Homo sapiens: one gene and its partners. The protein of the gene in region 2 purifies or fractionates together with the protein of the main gene of each other region. This does not show direct contact. Each region holds a gene or a part of one and is shown on either strand. Other genes may lie near its edges.

Evidence for each region.
Region 1: the proteins of ESCO2 (region 2) and MACROH2A2 purify together in Homo sapiens (affinity purification with mass spectrometry, with the first as the bait; one large-scale study listed by BioGRID). This does not show direct contact.
Region 3: the proteins of ESCO2 (region 2) and ADD2 purify together in Homo sapiens (affinity purification with mass spectrometry; one large-scale study listed by BioGRID and IntAct). This does not show direct contact.

Annotation. Positions count from the first base shown.
Region 1 is NC_000010.11:70,069,781-70,073,434, reverse strand, and holds part of MACROH2A2 (core histone macro-H2A.2), read right to left. Parts: intron 1-3,654. UniProt on the Homo sapiens protein: Variant histone H2A which replaces conventional H2A in a subset of nucleosomes where it represses transcription. Nucleosomes wrap and compact DNA into chromatin, limiting DNA accessibility to the cellular machineries which require DNA as a template.
Region 2 is NC_000008.11:27,784,476-27,788,129, reverse strand, and holds part of ESCO2 (N-acetyltransferase ESCO2), read right to left. Parts: intron 246-3,654; coding exon 128-245; intron 1-127. UniProt on the Homo sapiens protein: Acetyltransferase required for the establishment of sister chromatid cohesion. Couples the processes of cohesion and DNA replication to ensure that only sister chromatids become paired together.
Region 3 is NC_000002.12:70,758,066-70,761,719, forward strand, and holds part of ADD2 (beta-adducin), read right to left. Parts: intron 1-3,654. UniProt on the Homo sapiens protein: Membrane-cytoskeleton-associated protein that promotes the assembly of the spectrin-actin network. Binds to the erythrocyte membrane receptor SLC2A1/GLUT1 and may therefore provide a link between the spectrin cytoskeleton to the plasma membrane.

The DNA of each region.
Region 1 (3,654 bases), on a different chromosome or scaffold from region 2:
TCAGGCAATGTTGCCATGTTGTTTTATCACGTTGTTTCTTCATCTGGAAGAAACAAGATCTCCCACCTTTGCCGTGCTGCTGCTGTCTGTGGCTGCTCACTCTCATAAATCCACTTGTAGGGGTTTTCTCTTTGAGGAAGCAAGCAACTATGTGTTAGGTAAATGTATGGAGGGCCTGCTGTTAGTCAGCCCTGTCGCAGGAAAGAGGGGAAACAGACAGCATTGCTAAGTGGTCCCTGTCCTCACATAGCACGTGTTTGCTAGCTGGGTTGTGGTGCTCTAAATGGAGGTGGCTCTTGCTATAGTGGAAGGAGCCCAGGACTGCGGAACAGAAAGTCCTGGGCATAGCGCCGCTTCTACATAACTACAGTCATGCACCCCACAATGACCGCATATGACGGTGGTCCTGTATGATCATAATGGAGCTGAAAAATTCCTATGCCCTAGTGACATCTTTTTGTTGTTGTTGTTGTTGTTTGGGAAGGAGTCTTGCTCTGTCCCCTAGGCTGGAGTGCAGTGGTGCAATCTCGGCTCATTGCAACTTCTGCCTCTGGGGTTCAAACGATTCTCCTGCCTCAGCCTCCCAAGTAGCTGGGACTATCGGTGTGCACCACCATGCCTGGCTAATTTTTGTATTTTTAGTAGAGACGAGGTTTCACCATGTTGGCCAGGGTGGTCTCAAACTCCTGACCTCAAGTGATCCATCTTCCTCAGCCTCCCAAAGTGGTGGGATTACAGGTGTGAGCCACCACACCTGGCCAACCTAGTGACATCCTAACGGTGTAGCACAATGCCTTACTCATGTGTTTGTGGTGATGCTGATGTAAACAAACCTACTGTGCTGCCAGTCATATAAAAGTCTAGCACATATAATTATGTATAGTATATAATACTTGATAACAAATGACGATGTTACTGGTACTCCTTCTACTTATTAAAAACAAAGTAAACTGTAAACCAGCCTTAAATGGATCCTTCAGGAGGTATTCCAGAAGGAGGCATTATTATTACAGGAGATGACAGCTCCGTGCGTGTTATTGTCCCTAAAGACTTTCCAGTGGACAAGATGTGAAGGTGGAAGACAGTGTTATTGATGACCCTGACTCTGTGTAGGCCTAGGCTAATGTGTATGTGTCTTATTTTTTTTAACAGAAGTTTAAAAAGTTAAAAAAAATTTTAATAGAAAAATGCTTATAAACTTAAAGTATAATAATAATAAAATAAAAAAAGAAAAATGCTTATAGAGTAAGGCTATAAAGAAGGAAAATATGTGTAGTAGCTGTGCAATGTATTTGTGTTTTAAGCTAAGTGTTATTACAAAAGAGTCAAAAAGTTTAAAAAGGTTAAAAAGTTTATAAAGTAAAAAAAATTACAGTAAGCTAAGGTTAATTTATTATTGGATAATTTATTGGAAAATTTATTATTGGGTAAGGTTAATTTATTATTAAGGAAAATATTCTCTTTTAAATGTAGTGTAGCTAACATGTACGGTATAAAGTCTACAGTAGTGTACAATAATGTCCCGGGCCTTCACATTCACTCACCACTCACTCACTCACCCAGAGTACTTCTAGTCCTGCAAGCTCTATTCACGGCAAGTGCCCTATACATGTGTACTGCTGTTTACATTTTATACTGTATTTTACTGTCCTTTTCTAAGTTTAGAGACACAAAAACTTACCATCACCATTGCCTGCAGTATTCAGTATGGTAAGATGTTGAGCAGGTTTGTAGCCCAGAAGCAACAGATCATAGGATTATAGCCTAGGTGTACAGGAGGCTGTACCATCTAGGTTTGTGAAGTCCACTCTATGCTGTTTGCACAATGACAAAATCACCTAACGATGCATTTCTCAGAACGTACCCCTTTCGTTAAGTGATGCATGACTGTAGTTATGTGAGCTTCATATGTTATTTATTTGGACCTCAGTGGCCTTCTCTGTAAAACAGGGCAGGTGGCTAACATCCTTACAGTTGTTCTGCTCTTAAACATCCTGATTTTTCTGAAAGGCACTTTTCAATGATTTTGGTAGAGAAGCTTAGGCTCTTTAAGCAGTCGGTTCTAAAGACTTAAGAGCCTACACAGGCTCATAAAGGTGCATTAGTGACTCTCCTAAGCCAATTATGTGCTTTTCTCAGTTAATGGTAAGTGGGATTGGAGGATGATTACTAAGTCTGGTTGTCAAGAAACCACCTGAAAAGCCCATCACAGGGTGGACGTGCTCTGTGAATATGGTGTGTGCTGGCTGGTCTTAATCTCTCCCTACCATGCTTCCACCAGAGAATGCTGCATGAAGTACAAACACCACAAGGGCAGGGACACCCCCTGTGCACACGCGCACACACACACACACACTCATGCACATGCACACGCGCGCCCACACACGCATGCACGTGCACACGCATACATGCACGCGCTCACACACACACACACATGCACATGCACACAGACACACACACACACACACACACTTTCCTCAAAACAGCCAGAGAATGACTAGGTGTGCAGGATAAAGCCATTTAGGGACTTTCCTACTATTAGCTGCCAAGAGAAGTCACAAACTGCCCTAAAAATTGGAACTTAGGACTAGGAGTATAAGAAAAGCAAGTGACTTTAGGGGACGGATGCCTAAAACACTCAGGAAGAGGCCAAGCGTGGTGGCTTACGCCTGTAATCCCTACATTTTGGGAGGCTAAGGTGGGTGGATCACCTGAGGTCAGGAGTTTGAGCCTGGGCAACATGATGAAACCCCGACTCTACTAAAAATACAGAATATTAGCCGGGCGTGGTGGCGGGTGCCTGTAATTCCAGCTACTCTGGAGGCTGAGGCAAAAGAATCACTTGAACCCAGGAGGAGGAGGTTGCAGTGAACCGAGATTGTACCATTGCACTCCTGCTGGGCAACGACAGCGAAACTCCGTCTCAAAAACAAACAAACAAACAAAACTCAACACTCATGAAGATAAAATAGCCAAGTAAGGAAAATCAAAGTAGGAACAAGTAGAGAAACATACCACCTGCACATTGTAAAAAAGTACCTAAATGTAAGAATCATCCTGAACATGGTACTTTATAATAAGTTTTTCCCTCTGTGGCTTCCAGACTTCCCTCTAAGTGAGGGCCTTAGAGGAAATCCCCCTGGGTGGGGGATGCAGCTCCATCTGAAGTCTAAGTGTGAGATGGACTGACTTATGCATGTATTTTAAGCAGGACTGGAGAGTCCTCTATGCCTGCCAAACCCATCTTTTCAGGTCTTGTGCGGAATTTAAGCAGCCAGGCACCTATCTCCCAGGCCCTCCTGGGGACTCAGGGCTGTGAGGTCCCTGGACACGGACAGTAAGAATTAGAGCACATCCAGGAATCCCTAGGGGAAGCAAGGAGGGGCTTATGGAGCTGACATGTTACATCTACCAGAGCCCACCGACGGGAGGAAGTGCTGAGCCTCTGGGGCCACTCCAGAGAAGACCCTGCTTTCTAAAGACCACCTCTCCCCAAAGCCTGTGCTGGATTATGCCTGGAGTTATGATAAATTATAACCCTGAACTTCCTTCTTTCCCGGGCCACCCTTTCCTCCAACTCTATTCCGTCTTGGGAAGTCAGGAGTCAAAAACTTGAATGGGTTTTTATCCACATCCTGGTAATTGGAGTCTCGG
Region 2 (3,654 bases):
CATTCTGTCACATAAAACATTGCTTAATGACATTGAAAATACCAAGTTCTGAACTGTCTAATACAGGGGTTGGCAAGCTTTTCTGCAAAGGGCTAGATAGGAGAAGCTTTGTTTGGAATTTACTCACGATGATGAGCTGGTCTTTTGTTTTTTTACTTGTATCTCTGGTATTAGTATTTTTCTGGATATTGGTCTGTTTCATGAAGTTGACAGATCCCACAGAAAACTGTTCTTCACCTAAAGATCTTGACACAGAAAGTTGATATATATAAATTTACAATTTTGGAGGAATTACAAGGGAAAGAAAGCAGCCATTTATCAGAGTACCTTGCAATTTTTAGTGCTTTCTATCTGACATTAACTTGATGAAGTAATAAGGACAGGAACAAAGAGAAACCTGAGGCCTACTCAGAGAGGGTCAGTAATTTACTCAAGGTAAAGTAACTAGTAAATGGCAGTGTTAACACTCAAATCCTGGTCCTCTGACTCCAAGTCCTAGGGACTTTCTTCCACAATATCAGATGCACATAGATGCACACTTTGGAAATTGACTTTGCCCTTTAAAAAAAGATTTTTTTGCTTTATCAAATCTTAGGACAATATTTACCCCATACAGCTATGAAGAAATTCCTGGGGTACTGGAGAAAATAAGTATAATACTGAACTTCACAGATCCACAGGAAATCAGAGTCACCATCATATTATGACCCAGCACCTGGGCAATGAAGCTTCTAAATTTGCTTTTCCTCATACCAAAAGCAGCATCTCACTACTGTGAAATTCTTAAGGAAAAAAAAAAAACAAAAACATATTTAGGCTGGATAGCTGTAGTTGAGACAACCTTTACCTATTATGAAAGAATGTTGAGATTCACTTATAGAGGTTGCAAACTGGAGCCCCTCAGGCCAAATCTAGCTAGCAGATATGTTTTGGTTGGCCCATATGGTATTTAAAAACTTTGGATTAGCTACCAATATTTTAAAATCTAGAGATTTCACTTAAAAATGTGTATTTCCAATATTAAGAGACATTGTAAGATCACTAAACCTCTACTCCATCAAAGAATCTATGAGTTCGAACTTGGAATAGCACATGCCCTTTTAAGTGGGCAATTCTTCAGCTGGCCCTAGTCTCCACCCAGCCTGCTGGTTCTGTAGGTACTGAGTTTGTAACCCTTGCCTTGTAATGAAAGGACCTTGGTTTTCCAGGGACCAAAGGAGTAGAAATCCCTAAAGAGTAGAAGTAAATAAGAAAGAAAAAAAAAAAAAACCCTAGTACCAAAAGTAAGAAGTTCAAACAACAGGAAAAAAAAAAACCTGACAAAGTAGAAAAAAAAAAAAAAAAAGGTGGAGCATTAGCTCCACTGCATTAAGCTAAGTCAAGCTATCTTCTTACCATTTGTCTGAAAAGTAGTTTTCAAACTGACTTGACAAATCTATGCTAAGAAATACATTTCACATGACTAGTACAGACATAAAACCAAAGTTTCACTAAATATACTTGCTGTGTGAGAGATACACTATTCCACTAAAAATAAATGCTATTGTTGGAGGCCAAAAGAATGAGGGTTGTGACTAACTCAGTATACCACTGGAGGCTATATGAGCAAACAGCAAACTGTTATCATGAATGCAGGTTGTTGGCAAACTGACAAACTGCATCTGCCACCCAGAAGGAATGCTGAGGGCAGTCATGCCCAGGCACAGTGTTTCTTGCGATTATCTATAGGCACATTTGAAGCCTGTTAGCAATCACGTGAACCTGTGATAAATCAAGCAGCTGACCTTTACCTCCTCCTCCCTGCTCTTTCTACCCAATAAATATAAAAGGCTGTAAAAGCTCAGGGCCCTTGCTCACTAGCAGGAGCTCCCGACCCCTTCTTTAAAAAGATCCTTTTGTCTTTGTCTTCATTTCTGCGTTCGTCCACCTTCGTTCAGTCCCATAGTAACTGTCACAAGATATGACACCCTAAACTGGTCTGATGAACTACTAATGGGCTACTTCCTACAGTATGAAAAAACACTTGTTCAAGTCACTGACCCTTTTCACCTTATGCAGCCTTTGCTAGGCTCTCCCTGACTCTGCATGCGTGACAGCCATCTCTTTGCTTCCATTTTAGCAACTCTAACACTATATTTGTTTAAATGTCTACCCTCCTCTAACCATAACCTCCTTGATAGCAAGACCACATTAATTATCTTCACATCTCTAGAACTCAGTATAGTTCAATAGCATGTGATACTCTCTAAATGTTCATTGAATTTTAAAAACCAAAAAACAAATGTGCGACTAAGCACTTTGAGAATCTGTAATCATCTGAAGTAATAGATTAAATCTCAAATTGCTGATAACTGACGTTTTGGAGTCTACAAAAAGAGCAATATCATATTATTTAACAAATAGTATCCCACTGTCTTTTTTTTTTTTTTTGAGATGGAATCTTGCTCTGTTGCCCAGGCTGGAGTGCAGTGGCACCATCTTGGCTCACTGCAACCTCTGCCTCTTGGGTTCAAGCTAGTCTCCTGTCTCAGCTTCCTGAGTAGCTGGGATTACAGGCATGCCCCATCATGCCCAACTAATTTCTGTATTTTTTGGAAAGACGGTTTCCCCATGTTGGCCAGGCTAGTCTCAAACTCCAGACCTCAGGTGATCCACCCACCTCGGCCTCCCAAAGTGCTGGGATTACAGGCATGAGCCACTGCGCCTGGCCTGTCTCTTTATGCTAGACTAAATTAGTATACACTTTTATCAGTTAATTGTGGTAGGCTTCTGCTATGGTTTGAACACGTCCCCCAAAGTTCATGTGTGAAAACTTAATCTCTAGTGCAACAGTTTTGGGAGGTGGGGCCTAATAAGAGGTGTTTAGCTCATGATGGCTCCACCTTCATGAATGGATTAATGTTGATTATTGAAGGATGTGAGGCTGCAAGCCAAGCTCTCTTGTTCTCTCATGCACACTCTCTTGTTCTGCCTTCCGCCATGGGATCATGCAGCAAGAAGGCACCCACCAGATGTGGCTGCTTGATCTCGAACTTCTCAGCCTCTATAACTGTGAGCCAAATAAATTTCTGTCCATTATAAATTACCTAGTCCATGGTATTTTGTGATAGCAACACAAAATGAACTAAGACAGCTCCCATCTTCAATAAAAGGTCATGAAAGATGACAACACAGGTGAAAAATGGGAAAGGTGAGAAAAACTAGAAACAAACCTTTGAAGAGGGAAAGCTGTGCACCCATCCTAATCACTGAGGCAATTTAAGGTGAGGTGCTCTGAGAGTAAGGAAAATGTAGCCGGGAAGTTCCTTGCTTAATATCTGGAGTTATTTATAATCAAATGGGGAGAGAAGAATCAAAGCTGCTTAGGAAGAGGATGTTTAGACCATAAGAAACTACTTTTTCAGAGCTCTGCCGCCTATCATGCTCTCTACCCATCCATGCCTCCTCCATTGCAGTCTTTAGCTTGGGTACTGGTAGCTTCAGCTATACTTTATGATAACATTAAGCTGCTGCAAGTTACTTACTCCTCCAGCCAGCTTTCTCATCTACAACATGGGGTAATAATGGTACCTACATCATGAAGTTGTAAATGCTTATTAAATTGTAGCTACTATACTATCACCCAGGGAAGGCAATATAACCTAATGGGCATTT
Region 3 (3,654 bases), on a different chromosome or scaffold from region 2:
GAGGCTGCCATTCACGCGGCAGGAACTGTGAGGGATCGACATCTTTATAACATCGGTTCTTCCCATCTGGGAACATGACATTCTGTTTCTTGAGTAAATATTGGTAATGCATATTTTCAGTGGAAATAGTCCATTTCATCAAGATTTTCACAGATGATGGGATACAATAATGCACAATGTTCTTGAGATTTTACATCTTTTCTCCATGCTGCTCCATATGTCATTTCTAGCTTTGTGAATTTTTTTGCCTTTGTATCTTAATTAGGCTTTCTGGAAGTTTGCCTATTTTATTGGCTTTCTAAAAGAACTAACTGGCTGGATAAAAGGTGGGGAGAGGGCATATAAGGAGGTGGAAAGAGTTGTTTTGGAAGGGTTGGGAGGGTGGGAAAGCATGTTCAGAAAAATGGAGTAGTTCAGCCTACCTAGAGGGTAGAGCGTAAAGGAAAAAGAGGAAAAGCAGTTGAGGCAGGTAAGGAGCTTGGGCTTTATCCGGAGGGTAGAGAAATGATGAGATTAGATTTTTGTTTTAAAAAGATCAACTATGCAACATAGTGAGACCTCGTCTCTACCAGAATTTTAAAAAAAATAAGCCAGGCATGTTGGCATACACTGTACTCCCAGCTACTTGGGAGGTTGAGATGGGAGGATTGCTTGAGCCCAGGAGGTTAAGGCTGCAGTGAGCCATGATTGCACTGCTGCACTCCAGCCTGGGCAACAGAGCGAGACCTTGTCTCAGAAAAACAATAATAATAAACTATGGATGGAGGAAGACTGGGCTGGAAGCAGGGAAGAAGGTGGGGGGACTCTAAAGTAATCCAGAGTTTCAGCCAGGGGCAGTGTGGCCATATGAAACAGGAACCCAAGCAAAGTAGCCCAGGCAGAATGGAAGGCAACATCGACATGGAAACCAAAGTCTAGCCTGGACTCATGGAAACTACTAGAATTGTCATCAATTCAGGGAGCCATGGGGATGGGGTGAAGGATGTCAAATGGTCCTTAGAGCTGCTACTGATAGAAGCCACAGGGATTTACTACTTGGCTTAGAAAGTTTTTTTCAGCCACTTCACAGCTGGAAAAAAGGCACAGAGAAAACCATTCCAGGCATTAAATGGAGCACTGAAATTTGTATTCAGGTACCTAGATCCTAAGCTCCCTGGCCTCCAGATCCTGCCCTGGAAGCTTGCAGGATGAGGCCCTATGTTAGATCAAATACATTACAGGTATTTACTGCTGGGTGGAATAGCGTTTATTTACATACTTTTGTATCTTTATTTTTAGCTGCATCTGGTGAAGTGATCAGAATCAACCTTGTTTGAAGCTGGATATATTAAATCCCCACTTTACTGGGAGCTCCCTCAGCACATGTCTGAGGAACTGAGGGTGCTGTGGTTTGGATATTTGATCCCTCCAAAGCCCATGTTGAAGGAGGGGGTACCTGGTGGGAGGTGTTTGGGTCATGGTGGTGGATCCCTCATGAATGGCTTGGAGCCATTCTTGCAGTAGTGAGTGAGTTCTCACTCTTTTCATTCCCATGACAGCTGGTTGTTAAGAAGAGCCTGGCATCTCCTCCCCTCTCTCTTGCTTCCTCTCTTGCCATGTGATCTCTGCACACGCCAGCTCCCCTTTGCTTTCTGTCAGGAGTGGAAGTGGCCTGAGGCTTCCACAAGCTGCCCAGTCTTCCAGCCAGTAGAATCATGAGAAAAGTAAACCTTTTCTCTATAAATTACCCAGCCTTGGATATTCCTTCATAGCAACACAGGCAGACTAAGATGGGGATCTGCCACTCAAGGTGGCAGTGCTGATAGATTTCCCACGGCCCTTAGATTTATATCCCTCATCCCCACCCCACTGACCATACCACAGCCCATCTAGCCCTGTTTCATTGAGCCTGGGGATACTAGCACTCAGCTGAGAGGACACCACTGCTTCTTCCCAGGAAAGCCCCTTGTTGATACTCATGGGCTGGGTGATATTGGCTGGCACCATCTGTACTCTAACTTTTACAGAGTCCTTAAAGAATCTAGGCCCAGTGTTTGTTCTCTTCTCTAAAACTCAAATCGATGTTTTCCTTACTATATTTGTCTTTGGACACTTTGAAGAAAAGAAAGGCAAATATTTAGGTCCATGGTGCCATCTTGAAACCTACACGTGCGTGTTTATAACCCTGAACCTGCAACTCAGATCTCGGGTCCCAGCCATGACACATGCATACGTCTGCCTCTCTGCTGGCCATCCCCACCTCAAACTCGTCTTGTCTAAAACTGACCACTGTCTTACACAAACCACTTCCTTCTTGGCTGTGCTGGATTCCCCAATTTAGAGCACCAAGCAAAGTAGGGCTCCAAATATTCTTGGAATAAATTTGATATATATTTTTTGAAGCATCAAAGTAGTCACCATGGAGATGTTATAACAATGAATAAGATACAAATGGTACAGTTCTAATTTTTTAAAGTTTCAGAGAAACAAGTCTGATGTACTTTGTTTGAGGATGCAAATTTAGATTATAAAATTATAAAAGCAAGCAAGAAAATGGTTACCATAAAAGGAAGGTGAGTTGTTACCTCCAGGGGGAAGCAGGGTGTGGTTCAAGGGTGCACTGGGCTCTGGGAGCTGGCTGTGTCCTGCTTCTTGACCTGCATGGTGGTCACACGGGCATTCACTTTATAATATTTCACTAAACTGCACATTTGTTTCATGTCCTTTCCTATATCTGTGTTATGTTTTATATATTTTAAGGTTTTTTTAAATAAAGTAGTCATTACAAGGGAAAGAAACAAAACTTTTGTGGACTTTCATAGTTATTTTGATAAAGTTGGCCACAACTTATCTTCCATCATACAAAATGCCAGAAGACAAAAGAATAATATTTGGAGTTTTTAGGTAAAAAGATTAAGATGAAGAAGTGTATGCCCCAAAAGGATGATGTTACTGTGAAACAGCAACATAAAGAAGTTCTTAGGCAAGCAAGAACTACCGGAATATACTATCTTTCCTGAAAAAGATTCCAACTAATCAAGGAATAAGTAAAAATGAAGATTGAGCATAGGAAATGGACTGAGTATTGTAACCTATGTAACTCTCAGTCTAGATAGCAGCTGTTAGTATGGTTAGGAAACATAAATGTCAAAAATAATTCTGGAAAGCAAAAGCATGCATTACTTTTTTTTTTTTTTAAAGACAATAATCTGGATCTAAAAGCCAAAATGTTTTTAAGGCAAAAAGTTAGTGGGGGTAGATGGGCAACAAAAAAGAAATTAAAGCTGGGCACAGTGGCTTACACCTGTAATCCCAGCACTTTGGGAGGCCGAGGTGGGTGGATCACCTGAGATCAGGAGTTTGAGACCTGCCTGGCCAACATGGTGAAACCTGGTCTCTACTAAAAATACAAAATTAGCCGGGCGTGGTGGCAGGTGCCTGTAATCCCAGCTACTCAGGAGGCTGAGGCACAAGAATCACTTGAACCCAGGAGACAGAGGTTGCAGTGAGATGAGATTGTACCACTGCACTCCAGCCTGGGTGACAGAAAAAAAAAAAAAAAAAAGGAAGGAAGGAAGGAATTAAAGTATACTAAATCTCTCATTATTTATGAAAGAACAAATAGACACAACTTTTTTTTTTTTTGAGACAGAGTATCGTTCTGTTGCTCAGGCT